Linked DNA regions of Homo sapiens: region 2 is linked to region 1. A link means that fine-mapping ties the variant in region 1 to the expression of a gene that starts in the linked region. Tissue or cell type: whole blood. Region 1 holds a variant in brackets; the other region holds the start of a gene. All regions are shown on one strand. Distances are from middle to middle.

Region 1 (2,756 bases):
CTCTACATAACCAGTTTTCCCTAGGAGAGTTATAATTCCTACGGGGATGCTGCTTTGCTAGCCAGGCATGGTTTTTGAGAACTGGGAGTTGCCAGAATCTGCTGTCCTAATCCATGAGGCTGAAATTGGATTTTTCATCTCCCTGGGAGAAAGATTACATTTTAAAATCAACTATAGGTGTGTCTCCCCAACATTAGAAGTAGACTATTTTCCACCCTGGAAACGCTGGGGATTCTTATCCAAAGGCTAAAAGATCATTAATAGTACGGCATTTGATTCCATTTGAAGTCAGAGCAACATCCTCTTTAGCACTGTGGTTAAATTTCAGACTCACCTTTATCTTGGTGAAAAAATGAAATGAAAAAATGAAAATTTTATTGGGGGCTGGCATAACCATAGTCATAGTCAGCCGGCAGAGAAGGAAAAATGGACAGCTATTGAAATTCTAAGTAAAAATCTATGAGAGTAACATAGTGGCATAATTATCTTGTCTCCTGCTTTTTCTGAGTGATAGGCATTATGTGATCACATGTTTTCCCCATGCCCAGACACATAAAACACCTTTATGCGATGTTTGCAGAGAAGGAGCAGTTCCGTCTAGTATTTTGGAGGAGTAACTTATGCCTTTTCTCCTTATGGAAAGCATTTTTAGCTATGTGTTTAAGTGGACAAGTTGAAGAAAAACACATTTGCCTTTATGAACTCTGTCATGGGTCTGGCCTGAGTTATACCTCAAAATAGAACTTGCGTTGGTCTATGAGAGTCATTTACAATTGAATTCGGGTAACTGTTGGAGTGCTGAATAAGTTTCTGTCATAGATGAGAGAATTCTGTATACGACTGCGGAACCTGGTACACAGTGGAGCAACCAAAGGAGAAATCTCGGCCACACAGGACGTCATGATGGAGGAGGTAATAACAAAATTTGGATTTTTTTGTGACCCCTCTAAGGAACTCTCAGAATATTCCCATCTGTTAAAGTAATGATTAGGAAGCTTTAGTCATGGCAACGAATGTTTAATTGAATTGAAAATTACTTATTTTACACTGAAAAAACTGAGCTTAAAACTTACTTTGCCTTTTAGTGTAGGACTTGGACTTGGATTTTCTAATTCGTAGTTTAGTGGTCTGTATAATCATTCTTTTATCATTTCATAAATATTAAATACCTTCTATGAGTTTGGCACTGAGGAAACAGATGAGAAAGACATAGTCACTGCTCTTAAAGAGCTCAGTCTCTTGGGAAAAAGAAAACACATCTATAATGATGATAAATCCTATGCTAGATGTGTAAAAACTGATT[T/C]GGTGGTCATAGAGGAGGGAGTGACTAGCTCAGTGAGCTGAAGCTTTCATAGGGAAGATAGCTCTTGAAAGAGTAGTCAGAATTTACCAGGTAGATAACAAGACCATTCTAGGCAAAAGGAATTGTATGAACAGTGCCATAAACAAAGATAGAACCTTCAGGGAATCATGTGGCTGAAACATAACTTTTTTCAGTATGATGGGTAGCAAATTAAGCTAGAAAGGCAGAGATGTAAGGGATGTTGGATCGATGCCAGAACATTTGGCTTCTTTCTGTAGAAATAAAGACGGAGCTATTGATGGTTATATTTGTTAATGTATGTAAAAACATTTTAGAAAATGTAAAAAGCACTAAAATATGAGGTGGTAATATTATTTATGATCAAGACAGTTAAGAAACTTTATTATTAATACTATCCATGTCCAGAATGAATATGCATAAAACTGCAATTGGTTTGAGGAAAGAATAAATGTTTCCGTTTGTCAGCCAGTAGGCCCTTTATTAGGCTTCCTTTCAAGACTGTATGGAGTTAAAATGGCCTACTTTTTTTCACTGCGATGGAAAACACTAATGCTTCACTTGTGTTTTCCTTTAAATCTTAGAGATGCAGCATAGTGGAGCAGTGGAGTGTGTAATCTCTGAAGTCAGGCTATCTGAGCTCTAGTCTTCTCATTACTTTATATCCTGGGACAAGTTCCTTAAGCTCTAAAGGCTCAGTTCATATTTAACATGTCTAGCCTAGTGCTTGGCACAATAGCTGTTTCTTAAGTATTTGTTGAGTGGACGAATGCAGAAATTTCATTTACCAAATGCATTTAAATAATCTCATTTTTATCTCTTAAATTCTTACAGAAGAGAGGCATCTTAGTATAGTAGGAAAAAATAGGCTTTGGAGTCAGACATACATGGGTTTAAATTCTGACTCTTTTACTTAACAGTCTGTGATCCTAGGTAAGTTACTTAACCTGTCTGAGATTCAGTCAGGATCTGAAATATTTTCCTTATTGGATTTTTGGGGAATCAAGGATTAAATGTAAGCATGCAAGGCATAGTGCCTGGCACGTAGCAGGAGTTCTGTAAATGTTACTTCTTCCCTTCTTGCTTGGAATGACTGTCTTGCAGAGGCTATATCTGCTACATAATTTGCCTTTATTTAGGGTTAGATTAAGATGGTGGGGGCCAGGCACGGTGGCTCATGCCTGCAGTCTCAGCACTTTGGGAGGCCAAGGTGGGCGGATCATAAGGTCAGGAGATCAAGACCATCCTGACCAACATGGTGAAACCCCGTCTCTACTAAAATACAAATAATTAGCTGGGCGTGGTGGTATGCGCCTGTAGTCCCAGCTACTCGGGAGGCTGAGGCAGGGGAATCACTTGAACCCAGGAGGCAGAGCTTGCAGTGAGCCGAGATTGTGCCACTGTACTCCAGCCTGGTGACAGAGTGAGACTCCGT
Region 2 (2,626 bases), 720 kb after region 1:
GAGGGTCCCACCTCTGGAGCTTCGCCGTCGGCCCACCCCGCTCCCGCCCTCGCAAATAGGGTCCAACGCGGAGGAGCCTCGGGAGGTGTCTCCGCTCCCCAAACTCTCCAAACCCAGAAGCCCCGGGAGGCCGGAGCTAGCCGAGAGGCTGCTGTCTTCCCCACCTCCGCCGTCGCCCAGCGGTGGCAGGCGCGCGTCTAGAAAGAGATTGGTCGCCGCGAGATGGGGACGCCACAGGCCTCACCCCCAGGAGGTGCGCTGGCCGGCCCGCCCCGCAGCGGGGCGCTGGTTCTGGTTCCCTCTCCAGGATTTGGGGGGGAAACGTGGGTAGAGAGCGAGGGTCGAGATGCCTATCCCAAAGCTTGGAAACAGCGAGAACGTGTTATTTCCGTGGTCTCCCATGCACCCCGGTTTACGAGGCGTTCCTTGTAGGTCGGACGGGCATCCCTGTCGCAGGGCGCCTGAGTGTGTCCTTTTCTCCGACTGACTCTCGGAGGCTTGGGGCTGCTGTTTCTGGGGAAGCCACTCCCGGGCTGAGGATTTCCTTGATGTGGAGCCCCGAGCTCGCGGGGACGGGGGCGAGGAGTCCACGGGACCCGCACTGATGCAGGCGGGGAAGCAGCAGCCTCCCGCCAGCGGCTCAAGACGCCGCGCTCGACCTCTCTAGCCCAGTGCCGGACCCCGCCCAGCCAAGTTATTGCGGGGTTGCGGGGCCGGGCGGGGGAGAGCAGGGCCGCCCGAGGGCAGAGCGCGCGCGCGGCCGCCGCCCCACGGGGTCCCGGGAGCCGGCGCCCGGAGCTGCGACTTACTCACCTCTCCCTTCTGCTTCTTTTCATCGGCCTCTGAGGGCGCAGCGCCCAGGGTCTGGCGGAAGACCCTGATGACAGTCGGGTCCCCAAGCCTCGGCCTCCAGTCTCCCCACGTCTCCATGGCCAACACCGCTCTCCCCGGCTCGTGCCCTCCCCACTCCCTTCCGGCTGCCGGCGCGCCCTCCCTCCCTGGTGGCCCCGGCTCCTCTCACCCTCTGCTCCCACTTGTTGCAATTGCTGTACAAAGGGCCGGGGCGGGGGTGGGGGGCGGGCGAGGGCAGCCGGGCCCGAACTGGCTGCCTCTGCCCGGCCACGGCCAATCCAGAGCGCGCCCGCGCGGGAGGGCCCTGGGCAGCCGCCGCCGGCGGGCGGAGCCGCGGGCAAAGCGCGGAGCTCGCCGAGTAGACGGCCCCGCCGCCCGCTGCCCGCCGGGGCTCTCCAGCTTCGCCATGCCGCCGTGGGGCGCCGCCCTCGCGCTCATCTTGGCCGTGCTCGCCCTTCTCGGCCTGCTCGGCCCGCGGCTCCGGGGACCCTGGGGGCGCGCCGTCGGAGAGAGGACCCTGCCGGGGGCCCAAGACCGAGACGACGGGGAGGAGGCGGACGGCGGAGGCCCGGCGGACCAGTTCAGCGACGGGCGCGAGCCACTGCCGGGAGGGTGCAGCCTTGTTTGCAAGCCGTCGGCCCTGGCCCAGTGCCTGCTGCGCGCCCTGCGGCGCTCAGAGGCGCTGGAGGCCGGCCCGCGCTCCTGGTTCTCCGGGCCCCACCTGCAGACCCTCTGCCACTTCGTCCTGCCCGTAGCGCCTGGGCCTGAGCTGGCCCGGGAGTACCTGCAGTTGGCGGACGATGGGCTAGTGGCCCTGGACTGGGTGGTAGGACCTTGTGTTCGGGGCCGCCGGATCACCAGCGCCGGGGGCCTTCCTGCGGTGCTTCTGGTGATCCCCAATGCGTGGGGTCGCCTCACCCGCAACGTGCTCGGCCTTTGCTTGCTCGCCCTGGAGCGCGGCTACTACCCGGTCATCTTCCATCGCCGCGGCCACCACGGTTGCCCACTGGTCAGCCCCCGGCTGCAGCCTTTCGGGGACCCGTCCGACCTCAAGGAGGCGGTCACATACATCCGCTTCCGACACCCGGCGGCGCCGCTGTTCGCGGTGAGCGAAGGCTCGGGCTCGGCGCTGCTCCTGTCCTACCTGGGCGAGTGCGGCTCCTCCAGCTACGTGACAGGCGCCGCCTGCATCTCGCCCGTGCTGCGCTGCCGAGAGTGGTTCGAGGCCGGCCTGCCCTGGCCCTACGAGCGGGGCTTTCTGCTCCACCAGAAGATCGCCCTCAGCAGGTGGGTAACGGAGGCCGCAGACCAGCATGGAAAGAATAGAGGGCCTGAGCTGGCTAAGAATCAGAAACAGCTATGCATAGCATTGGAACAGGCGTGGGCCAGTTTGGGCAAAGTTCTCTGAACACATCTTCCAAAGCCTTCCAAACCCTGTAATCTAGACAGAACCGGGGAAGCGGGTTTAAAGGTCATCGATGGACTCAGCTAGTATCGCTGTGCTAGAGCAGGGACTCCTAACCCGGCCCCTTGCCTCATCTCGGCACCCCCTGCTGTATCCTAGCAATCTGAGCACCTGGCCCACGACAGCAGAGATACCTGACATTTACCACTTAGCCCACAGCTTAACAGCTCAGCAAAGAGCACTCTGGAAGCAATTGCAAACGATTATCTGCCCAGAATGTTTACTCACAGTCTCTGAGCCTGGAGGTGACAGGAATCAGAAATATGGTGGCATTTGAGGCCAGGTGCAGTGGCTCCCGCCTGTAATCCC

The links. PIP is the estimated chance that this variant, and not a neighbour inherited with it, causes the effect.
Region 2: it holds the start of ABHD15, and the variant in region 1 is fine-mapped to the expression of ABHD15 in whole blood (TOPMed, PIP above 0.99).

The regions. Positions count from the first base shown.
Region 1 is chr17:30,283,544-30,286,299 of GRCh38, reverse strand. It overlaps BLMH (bleomycin hydrolase), which reads left to right. Exons shown (of 12, transcript NM_000386.4): 6 at 820-912. Among named protein-coding and RNA genes, the nearest start is that of BLMH, 7.0 kb to the left of the region's middle. The variant T/C (reference allele first, on the strand shown) is at 1,304.
Region 2 is chr17:29,565,599-29,568,224 of GRCh38, reverse strand. It overlaps ABHD15 (abhydrolase domain containing 15), which reads left to right and starts at 1,188. Exons shown (of 2, transcript NM_198147.3): 1 at 1,188-2,139. The coding sequence starts at 1,259. It also overlaps a transcript of TP53I13 not described here. RefSeq lists enhancers at 68-117, 2,138-2,247 and silencers at 648-907, 998-1,617.